3 linked regions of the Homo sapiens genome follow. The protein of the gene in region 1 interacts with the protein of each later gene in a pairwise test. Each region holds a gene or a part of one and is shown in the gene's direction. Other genes may lie near its edges. The genes, in order: EIF2B1, EPM2A and C1orf50.

Region 1 (3,654 bases):
CAGGTCTCCTTTCTGGTTGTGGTTGATTTGTGAGAAAGTGTACAGAGATGCTTAGGGTGTCGGGAACACGTGCCGCAGTGCAGAGGGTGTGAGTGAGCAGCAAGGAGCCTGCCCCTTTGACAAAGCTTTCTCGGTCCACAGACAATATTGACTCACGCCTACTCCAGAGTGGTCCTGAGAGTCCTGGAAGCAGCCGTGGCGGCCAAGAAGCGATTTAGTGTATACGTCACAGAGTCACAGCCTGATTTGTCAGGGCAAGTACCTTTCTGTTCAGTTATGTGCCCAGCCATAATTTTACAGAGCAAACTGCGGATTACAGTCCAACAGGATCAGAACCAGAATGTGCCCCCAGCTTGCCAGCAGTCAGCACTGCCTTTCATTGTACCTTTTCCTGCCTTTGGAAGAAAAATCACTGAATTTGCAGCAGGCCGCAGTATATGATCTAGGGGTTTCACTTAAGTAGTTAACTCCGTGGAAGAGCAGAGATTGTATTGATGAAGATTTTTATCAAGGAATAGGTAACTTATATCTCCCTCTCTCTAGACGATAATCAAAGCAAAACTTCCTCCTTTTTTCCTGAATTTACATCTCTTACCCAGAGTCTAAGAGTATAGTTTTCCAAAAATACTTCTTTCTAAAGAACTCAAATTCTTGTTTCCTTAGTCCAAAGTATTGGGATCTGCCCCTTAACCCATTAGTATTAATGTGAGTTTCAAGCAAACATCCACTGTCCACATTAGGTGACATACATCACTGTGGTACTGTCTTGTACTTTCTCTAACGTTCTCAAAATGTCATCTTCAGTAAGAAAATGGCCAAAGCCCTCTGCCACCTCAACGTCCCTGTCACTGTGGTGCTAGATGCTGCTGTCGGGTGAGTGCCCATCTTCCCCAGCCATAATCACCTCCCCCACCCCATGCTGGCTTACAGCAAGTTTTCAGATTGAAAGTTTGAGTCCCGTTCATAAAGCCACACCAGGTAGCGTCCTACTTCTTAATTAATAGCTGCCCTAAACCAGCAAGCTTGTTATGAGGTTGTGATAGCATACAAAGAAGACAGAGCTGTAGGATGTTGGGGAGAGTGGGAGTTGTGTCTATAGCTTTATGGCTGTAAGTGTTGAGTTTGTTGTTGTTGTTGTTTTTGTTTGTTTGTTTTTTGTTTTTTTGAGATGGAGTCTTGCCCTGTTGCCCAGGCTGGAGTGCAATGGCATGATCTTGGTTCACTGCAATCTCCACCTCCCAGGTTCAAGCGATTCTCCTGCCTCAGCCTCCTAAGTAGCTGGGATTACCGGCGCATGCCACCATGCCACGTTAATTCTTTTATATTTTTAGTAGAGATGGGGTTTCACCATGTTGGCCAGGCTGGTCTCGAACTCCTGAACTCAGGTGATCTGCCCGCCTTGGCCTCCCAAAGTGCTGGGATTACAGGCGTGAGCCACCACGCCCAGCCAGTGCAAATGCATTTTAAGAGCAAAGTACAAAGGTCAGTTGGGATCAGCAGAGGGTAATCAGGGCTCTGTATTTCTGTGAAGACCTGGCTGTCCTCAGTGGCATACTGGGATGCTTTGTCTCACCTAGAAGATGCAGCTTGTGTCGCAAAGCCAAGTCACATGTTCCTGGGATTGTCAGTGTATTTCCCAAGAAAAAACAAGAGTAGTGATCTCTTGGAATGAAAACAAGATAGATGATTAAGGAAATTAGGAATGTGTTCAAAAGTAAGGATTTTGAGGAATTCTACTAATTGCTCATTTTAAAGACTAAATTGGCCTTCATCCTACCAGAAAGATTCTTAAGGTTGGGCACAGTGGCTCATACCTGAGGCAGGTGGATCGCTAGAGTTCAGGAGTTGGAGACCAGCCTGGGCAATATGGCGAAACCCCATCTCTAGGGCATGGTGGCATATGCTGTGGTCCCAGCTACCTGGGAGGCTGAAATGGGAGGATCGCTTGAGCCTAAGAGGTAGAGGTTTGGGCTGAGATCATGCCACTGCACTCTAGCCTGGGCAACAGAGTGAGATCTGGTCTCAAAAAAAAAAAGAAAGATTTTTAAAACTGCATAACACTTTTGTCCAACTTCAGATCTCATCAGATTTTAAAATTTTGTTTGGTTTGTGCTGAAGTAGAAAAGAAAGTAGAGGATACCACACTTGGAAGGAAGACTGCTGTGTCAGGACATTCTTGCTTCACTTACACACATATGTACGTGTGCATGCGCCGGGCGGCAGTGTGAAGTGTATGTCTCATTGTAGGGTCATGACCAGAAAACACCCCTGGTAACAATGCCAGGGGTCTATCGCGTGTTAAGTGCGCTTTAAAAAAAACAGGTAGTTATGGGAGGAACTTACCTTGATAGAAATGGAATATTGATCTTTGCAGATGATGATGCTACTCGTTAGAGCCAAGAAAATAAAGCATGAAAAGCTTTTTTTCCCCTTAGCTACATCATGGAGAAAGCAGATCTTGTCATAGTTGGTGCTGAAGGAGTTGTTGAAAACGGAGGAATTATTAACAAGGTAAGAGCATCAGTTCTCCCCAGTTCCCTGCTCAAGACTTGGAGGTGTCTTGCTGACCTAGGACACCACAGCAGTGTTGATTATGGTTCCTTCTAATCCTGCTTCACTTCAGGACTTCATCATGGTATTGAGTTGTTGCCCATTTCCCGTAAGTCATAGCAATGGGCAGTCCAGTTTCAGTCAAATCTTTTTTAGATTGATCTACATAAATGAAGACAATGTAATTTGGTCAGGTGTGATGCCTTATACCTGTAATCCTAGCAATTTGAGAGGCCAGGGTGGGAGGATCACTTGAGGCCTTGAGTTCAAGACCAGCCTGGGCAACATAGTGAAACCCTGTCTCTACAAAAAATTAGAAAAATTAGCTGGGCGTGGTGGTGCTTGCCTGTAGTTCCAGCTGCCCAGGAAGCTGAGGCAGGAGTATCACGTGAGCCCAGGAATTTGAGGTTGCAGTAAGTTATGATCACACTACTGCATTCCAGCCTGGGCGATGGTGAGACCCTGTCTCAGTAAAAAAAAAAAAAAAAAAAGTGTAATTTATATTTATACAAAATTGGCTTGAATTGGAATTGGGGTTTGTCTGGTTTTTGCTTTATTTATGTGTATATGTATGTTTTATTTATGCATATATATACACACACATAATATATATACACAAATATTTTTAAAATATTATTTATATATTTACATATAAAGTATGTATGTATAAAATACGTGTATTTATATATAAATATTATATATATTTTAAAATAGAGACACATTCACTCTGTTGCCCAGGCTGTAGTGTAGTACAGTGATCATAGCTTACTGCAGTCTTGAACTCCTAGCCTGAAGCAATCTTTCCACTTCCCAAAGTGCTAGGATTACAGGCATGAGCCACTGTGGCCGGCCTGTCATTTGTTTTCATTTTAATTGAGCACATTTGACCTCAATTTATTACAATCTCTCTCTCCATTATTTAATTTAGAAAAGCTTCATGAAAGCTTTTTTTAGTTAAAATATATGTAACATAAGGCCGGGCGTAGTAGCTCACGCCTATAATCCCAGCACTTTGGGAGGCTGAGGCAGGTAGATCATCTGAGGTCAGGAGTTCGAGACCAGCCTGGCCAACATGGTGAAACCCCATATCTACTAAAAATACAA
Region 2 (3,654 bases), on another chromosome or scaffold:
TTTTTTCTTTTGAGACGGAGTCTCGCTCTGTCGCCCAGGCCGGACTGCGGACTGCAGTGGCGCAATCTCGGCTCACTGCAAGCTCCGCTTCCCGGGTTCACGCCATTCTCCTGCCTCAGCCTCCCGAGTAGCTGGGACTACAGGCGCCCGCCACCGCACCCGGCTAATTTTTTGTATTTTTAGTAGAGACGGGGTTTCACCTTGTTAGCCAGGATGGTCTCGATCTCCTGACCTCATGATCCACCCGCCTCGGCCTCCCAAAGTGCTGGGATTACAGGCGTGAGCCACCGTGCCCGGCCTGAGGTTAGCTCTTATGCAAACCTTTGATTTTAACTGAATTCTTCTGACACCACTCCAGCAGAAGAATGGAGGTCCCACCTTATTACCCAGGTTCCTCACACTGTTTCCATTCATAACCAAACCAAACAGACTCCTCCCTGAGTGGGGTGGTAGTTCTAACTCTCCATTAGGCCTCCATTGATAGCTCCCTGGCTGAGACAGGGAGGAATGCCTTGTTACTGCTTCCTACATGGCATCCACTGATGGTCGGGTGGGAAGGAGGTGGAAATCTTGACTTTCCACTAGGTCACCTTTGTCACGATCTCAGTGGAAAGAAGGGGCACCTCGTTACTGCCAAATGGAGGTGGAAGTCCACCTTTCCACTTGGACTCCACTATATTGCCAACGATGATGCTGAAAGTTTCAGACCCCTACTCATCCTTCTCTGACACCATGATAGTGAGTGGGTTGAGGCACTGCAATACAGCTTGGCAAACAAAAGTGGAAGTGTACCCATGCTTGGCCTTTGCTGGCCTGAGTGGGTGTGGGGCCACATTTTTTCAGTGGGTTTGACTGGAGTAGTGTAGTTATTATCAAACAGATTTCTGTCTGGCTAGGCTTGTCTTTTCATTTGGCTAGAGAGAATGGACTTTTGTCATGTTTTCTTTTTCTGTCCTTGTGTTACCAGGTTGCTGGCTTCTTCAGATCTAAGTCTGGGATATATAAGGCAAAAAGAAAATGCAGGGAACTCAATACTTAGGTCTTTTCTTAGGTCTCAGTGTCCCTGGATAGTCTGTCTTCTTCTCTTTGTCTTTCAAAGTTATCTTATGTTTGTTTATTTATAATTTTCAGGGTTTTAAATTATACTTAGTGGGAGGACTAGGGAAAAGTACATTTATTCCATAGTTCTCCATGCAGAAATCTCCAAAACCAAAATTATTTTACTATTCATTTTTGCCATTTCATTAGGTGAAATTAAAAAGACAATAACCCATCCTCTAAAAGACATTTTAATTATTAGAACATATTTTGAATAACTCAGTTTACTATCCATGAAAGACTTTTAAAAATGTTGCCTAAAACATAAATGTGTAAAAATGAGTAATTAAAGAAATCACTCTAGGAATGAAGAATTCTTATGAAGATGATGACACATAAATAATTCTTCTTGACCATTGTAATTTATGAATATTTGATCTCTTCAACAATTATATTTTTAATAGGTAATAATTCAATTGTTGTAAGTCAATTATACTGACCAATGGGAGCCACAGATATTGTTTTATTTAACTAAAAAAGTAACACCCGCTCCTTGTAACTAATCCAATCAATTCAAAACAGTTGACTATGACAGTTCCCCTCCATCCAATTCCATTTCCTAGAAGTAACCATATCCAGTTTGTAGTCTATGTTTACACTTTCAGTCATGCTCTGCTGCTTCACTTAGTCACTCCTACTTTTCCTTTTCAGCTCCTCTATTCATCTTTTGTAAGTTTATCCTTCTCTCGCTGGCTGTTAAACATTGAAAAACTTTCAGACTTTGTTCTAGAACTTTTTTCCTTATTAATATTGTTTTTCTTTGTGACTCATCTATGTTCCTATTTCAATTACCATTTACACTCAAATTACTCATATATTTATTTTTTTAGTTCAGATTTCTGGTCTTAATGTCAAATGAGTAACTCCAGCTCTCTTTTGAGGACTCCTTTTGGATATCTAAAGAGCACTCCAAACCCAACATTGCCAGAACTAGATAGATGATCTTTCCTTACAGCCTCTTTCAGATTTTGCATCTCAGTGAATAGTGCCACTGTATATTGAATTATTTTCACTAGAAGCTTAAGAGGCATTGTTAATCCCCTTTCATCTTCACCTTCCTTTTCCAATTAATCACCAAGTCCTGTGGCCTTTCCCTCTTGAATCTGCATAATCCTTTCAAAGTCTGTGACCAAGCTTCATCATAAACTACCTAGGCCAATATAGTAGTTTCTTAAATGGACTCTCTGCTTCTATCTGATTGTTCTTGAATTATTTTTTTACTCTGTAGCCAGAGAGGTATCCTTAAAATAAAATCTGGTTATGTTACATGCCTGCTTAGAATATTTCAAATTTTTAGTTGCTCTTATGATAAATATCTGAGTTCTTAACATGACCTAGCACAGTACCTGTCTCAATAAATATCTGTAGAAGAATGAAAAAAAACTTATATGGTTTACAGTATTTTCTATTAAAATAGTATTACTGTACGCATGTATCTCTGTGTGCATCAGAAATTCTTTTTTCTTAGTAATATTTCTGTTGGATATGTTTCTAGAAGTGAGGTTGCTAGTGTAGTTTGGTTTTTATCTATTAAAAATGAAGGTTAATAGAGATGTGGTGCAGCACCTTGTAGTCGTCGAGAAAAAAAATCCATTAAGAGAAAAAAGAGGAGACTGATCTAGGAAGATCAGTAATGGTTTATTAAGAGAGTCATCCTGTACCTTCTGTCTGATGGAAGGAGTTATATCTCAAAGAAACATCAAATAATTTAAGGATTTTTTGAGAGCTTACGCCAAGCAAATTTAGGTTAAATATTTTGTAAGACAGAACAAAGAGAAAAGAACAAATGAATCACATTTTTGTATTCATAACAAATGTGATTTATTTCTGTAAACCACTCATGCATTTAGTTTGCTTACATGTCTTTCTTACAGTACATTATACTTAGGTAGTATAAAGAGAGGCATGATTTGAAATGGGATGATAAAAAGGTAGTAAAAATAATGTATGAATTATAATTTTTGTAGAAATCAAGGTTTACTAGTATGTAAGACCATTTGAGCTGCTATAAACAAAACACCATATATTGGTTAGCTTATGAACAATAGAAATTTATTGCTTACAATTCTGGAGGCTGGGGGGTCTAAGATTGAGGCATACCAGATTCAGTGATTGGTGAGGGCTCACTTACTGGTTCATAGATGGCGACGACTTGCTGTGTTCTCACATGGTGGAACAGAGCAAGGGGTTTCTTTCACCCCTCTTTTATAAGGGAGCTAATCACATTTGTGAGGGTTCTTCTTCATGACCTAATCATCTCCTAAAGGCCCCAGCTTCTAATACCAACACCTTGGGTGTTAGGATTTCAACATATAAATTTTGGGGGGACAAAAACATTCATACCATAGCAACTAGTGTAGTTGATACTGGGCAATCGTGAAATAGGCAAATAATATTTTTAGAGATGTGTGTCTGCTTCCTTTGATCCATGGCCCTGGAAGGAAGATGGTGTGTCTTTGTGCATGTGACATCAGCAGGGAGCATCACAAAGGCATCAGACGCCAGAAAGGTGGGGGACTAGGAGAGGCAGGTGCTACTAGCTCCGCACTACTAGTT
Region 3 (3,654 bases), on another chromosome or scaffold:
CAAGCTGACAGTCATAGCTGAGCAAATCCAACATTTGCAAGAACAAGCCAGGAAGGTAAGGAATGACTGTTAGACAGGCTTTCATTTTCTTTATTTAGTTCTCAGGATTGGCTGAACTTGTTTATAATCGTTGTGACTTTTTATGTCTTTAATACCTCCTAGAAATGTAGAGGTGTTGAGTAAAATAGAAGGAATAAGCTTAAGAGGTTAAGTATAAGTTTTTGTTTGTCTGTTTGTTTGTTTTTGAGACAGAGGTTTGCTCTTGTTGCCCAGGCTGGAGTGCAGTGGCATGGTCTCAGCTCACTGCAGCCTCTGCCTCCCGGGTTCAAGCGATTCTCCTGTCTCAGCCTCCCAAGTAGCTGGGATTACAGGTGCCCGCCACCACACCCTGCTAACTTTTGTATTTTTAGTAGAGATGGGGTTTTGCCATGTTGGCCAGGCCTGTCTTGAACTCCTGACCTCAGGTGATCTGCCTGCCTCAGCCTCCCTTGTTTTGTTTTTTCCAGGAGAAGGTTTCATGAGGTAAAGCATTTAACAGGGGATTATGTTTTCATTTATAAAAGAAATGTACTTAGCACAGAAAAATAGGAAAGAAGCTTAAAAATTACCCAGGGTCATTAATGCTCAACATTTTGAAATATCTTTTTTTTTGAGATAGGGTATCACTGTATCACACAGGCTGGACTGCAGTGGTGTAGTCTCAGCTCACTGCAACCTCTGCCCCCTGGGCTCAAGTGATCCTCTAGCCTCAGCCTCCCAAGTAGTTGGGAGTACAGGCATATGCCACCACACCTGGCTAATTTTTTGTATTTTTAGTAGAGACAGGGTTTTGCCATGTTGCCCAAGCTGGTCTCCTGAACTCAAGTGATCCACCTGCCATGGCCTTCCAAAGTGCTAGGATTACAGGCATGAATCACTGTGCCTGGCTTGAAATATAATTTTTCTAAAGGCATTTTTACAGCATAGCAGCATAGTCTAATTTTTGTTTCTTCAGAATAATCTGGATCTCAGAAGTGATTCATTGCTATGGGGGAGCAAGATCCTAAGCACTGAATGGTTTCCAAATTTTAATTGGGATGATCACCAAATGTGGGTGCCTGTTATCTCCAATACCTAATTTGTTACATATCTGTGATTCATAGGTACTGGAAGATGCTCACAGAGATGCCAACCTGCACCATGTAGCTTGTAATATAGTGAAAAAACCTGGCAACATTTACTATCTCTATAAACGGGAGAGTGGTCAGCAGTATTTTTCCATCATTTCTCCAAAGGTAAGAACATACATTGTTTGCCCAAAAATCTACTCCAGCCTCTGAGAAATTCTTGGTATATGTGTGAAAATGTAGACATGTGGATTGGTATATGGTTTCTTAGAAAATTGGGGGTGATGTGAGCCCAGACATGACTCTAAAAAATATACCTGTGCTTAAATTATTTCACTCATTTTCTTCATTAAGGGAGGGATCTGATGTGTAAGGTAACTGCGTTCCAAAGGTTGTTCTGACTAGTATGAAGTGAAAAGCCAAAAAAGAGATTGTGGCATGATTAGGAAATGAGCTCAGTTTGTTTACAACCCACGCTGATGGGAACTGCCTCCTTTGCCTTCTCTAGGAATGGGGGACAAGTTGTCCACATGACTTCCTTGGTGCCTACAAACTACAGCATGACTTGTCCTGGACTCCGTATGAGGACATTGAGAAGCAAGATGCTAAAATCAGCATGATGGACACGTTGCTAAGCCAGTCAGTGGCCCTGCCTCCGTGCACTGAACCCAACTTCCAGGGACTGACTCACTGAGAGTGGGCTTTGACAAACAGCTCTCACAGGACCTGGCTGTCAACCTCCTTGTTGCCCCCACTGTTGCCTTGAGAATTGAAGACATGTAGGTGACTCACAAACTTCTTGGAAAGAGACCCTGTGTGAATGTAAATGCTGTCATTATGACTTTTAATTGGGATGGGAATAATCATTGAGACAGAGTCACTGTCTTTCGGGATCCTCTTTGGACCACAGATACCCAAGTCAGTCAGTTTCAGAGTATTGGCCAGTGTACTTTCCTTCTTCCTCTCCATCACTTCTTCCCTTAAGTTAAAGTGTTAGAGAAGACCTTCTTCCCATAAAAAGGTTGGTGGATCGTTTTCCAGAGAGAACTGTTTTCAGTCTTTTATATATATATATATATATATATAACTGGTAGTATTTAACATTGGGGTTGAGGCTGTCTCACAGTTGGTGCAACTCCAGTTTAAAATTCATCTGGGAACGAGAATGTTGAGTAATGGAGGGTGATTTAAAAAACAACAACAACAACAAAAAAAAAAACACTTGGCTTGGCTGGACCAGAGAGTGTGTGATTCTGGGATTTCTGTGCTGTTGATGAGGTTTGTCTTGCCCCTTTTGCTCTCTCTGCCTTGCTAGAGTGACAGAATCTGAGGCAGCAAAGGCCAGGTTTGGGGAGAGTCAACTTTGAAACTCACAAATTTTAGACTTGGAAGAGACATTGGATGCTGCCACTAATCATTATAGAGTCCACTGTGTAGTCTCCCAAGTTGGAAATCCCAGGCTCAGCCACCTGCAGCAGAACAAACCCATTTAAATGGCTACTTAACACTGTGGAAGAGAGTAAGGCAGTAGAGTGAGAAGCAAGAAAAACAGCCAAATTGTTGACTGTGAGTTAACTCAGATTGAAATCCATTTTGACCAGAATTATTCAAGAACTTAACAGGGTTTTGGCAAAATTACTGTAGTTCTTATTCTGACTAGGCTCTTGTAGGACTCTACCTTCTTTCCTATCTGTTTGGTGGAATTAGCTAAGTTTATGGATTATTTCGCATGGCTATAATCTATTGCAATATGCTGTAAAAGGAGGGAGAGATGTGTACTTGAACTGACAATTGGCCAAATTTCTCTCTGGGAATGATGTTCCTGATGCTGATCTGTTTGGTAATACCCTCCCCGGGCCGCCCCCCGATTCATGGTCTTTCCTCATAAACTGCATTTCTTGTGAGCTGTAAGAGGTCTACCTAAGGCCTAGCACAGGATGGGGCTAGAATCTAACAAACTCACTCCGATGATACTTGGTTGCTCGGTTCACATGGGAATGCTCTTTGGACTCAGCTGCAGAGGTCTTTTGCTCAGGTGCTGCAGAGCCGGATGGAAGAGACATTAGTGGTAGAGTAGTGGATTCTGACTACAGAAAGTTTCCCAGGTTTTCAGAAGGTTCTGACCTGCATGATGATGACACATTTTGAATAGGTGCTTTATTAGTTACAGATAAACAAATTACTGCAAACTTAATGGTTTAAAGCAACACCTATTTATTTCAGAGCTTACAGGTTAGGAGTTCAGGCACCATTTCATTGAGTCCTCTGCTTCACAGTTTCTCTGAAACCCTGGAAGGCTGAAATCAAGTTATTGGTCAGGGCTGTTCTTATCTGAAGGCCTGAGTGGGGAAGGATCTGCTTCCAAGCTCACTTAAATTGTTAGCAGAATTTCTTTTCTTTCCTTTCTTTTTTTTTGAGACAGAGTCTCGCTGTATTGCCAGGCCTGAGTACAGTGGCTCAATCTCAGCTTACCGCAACCTCCGCCTCCTGGTTCAAGTGATTCTCCTGCCTCAGCCTCCTCAGTAGCTGAGATTACAGGCGCACGCCA

What was found.
Region 2: the proteins of EIF2B1 (region 1) and EPM2A interact in a two-hybrid assay, tested with the Homo sapiens proteins (one study listed by BioGRID).
Region 3: the proteins of EIF2B1 (region 1) and C1orf50 interact in binary tests that used the Homo sapiens proteins (3 or more experiments, as listed by UniProt).

What each region holds. Positions count from the first base shown.
Region 1 is NC_000012.12:123,623,644-123,627,297, reverse strand, and holds part of EIF2B1 (translation initiation factor eIF2B subunit alpha), read left to right. Parts: intron 1-141; coding exon 142-254; intron 255-804; coding exon 805-873; intron 874-2,435; coding exon 2,436-2,511; intron 2,512-3,654.
Region 2 is NC_000006.12:145,686,874-145,690,527, reverse strand, and holds part of EPM2A (laforin), read left to right. Parts: intron 1-3,650; exon of another isoform or gene 3,651-3,654. UniProt on the Homo sapiens protein: Plays an important role in preventing glycogen hyperphosphorylation and the formation of insoluble aggregates, via its activity as glycogen phosphatase, and by promoting the ubiquitination of proteins involved in glycogen metabolism via its interaction with the E3 ubiquitin ligase NHLRC1/malin.
Region 3 is NC_000001.11:42,773,595-42,777,248, forward strand, and holds part of C1orf50 (uncharacterized protein C1orf50), read left to right. Parts: coding exon 1-55; intron 56-1,142; coding exon 1,143-1,274; intron 1,275-1,614; coding exon 1,615-1,800; 3' UTR 1,801-3,654.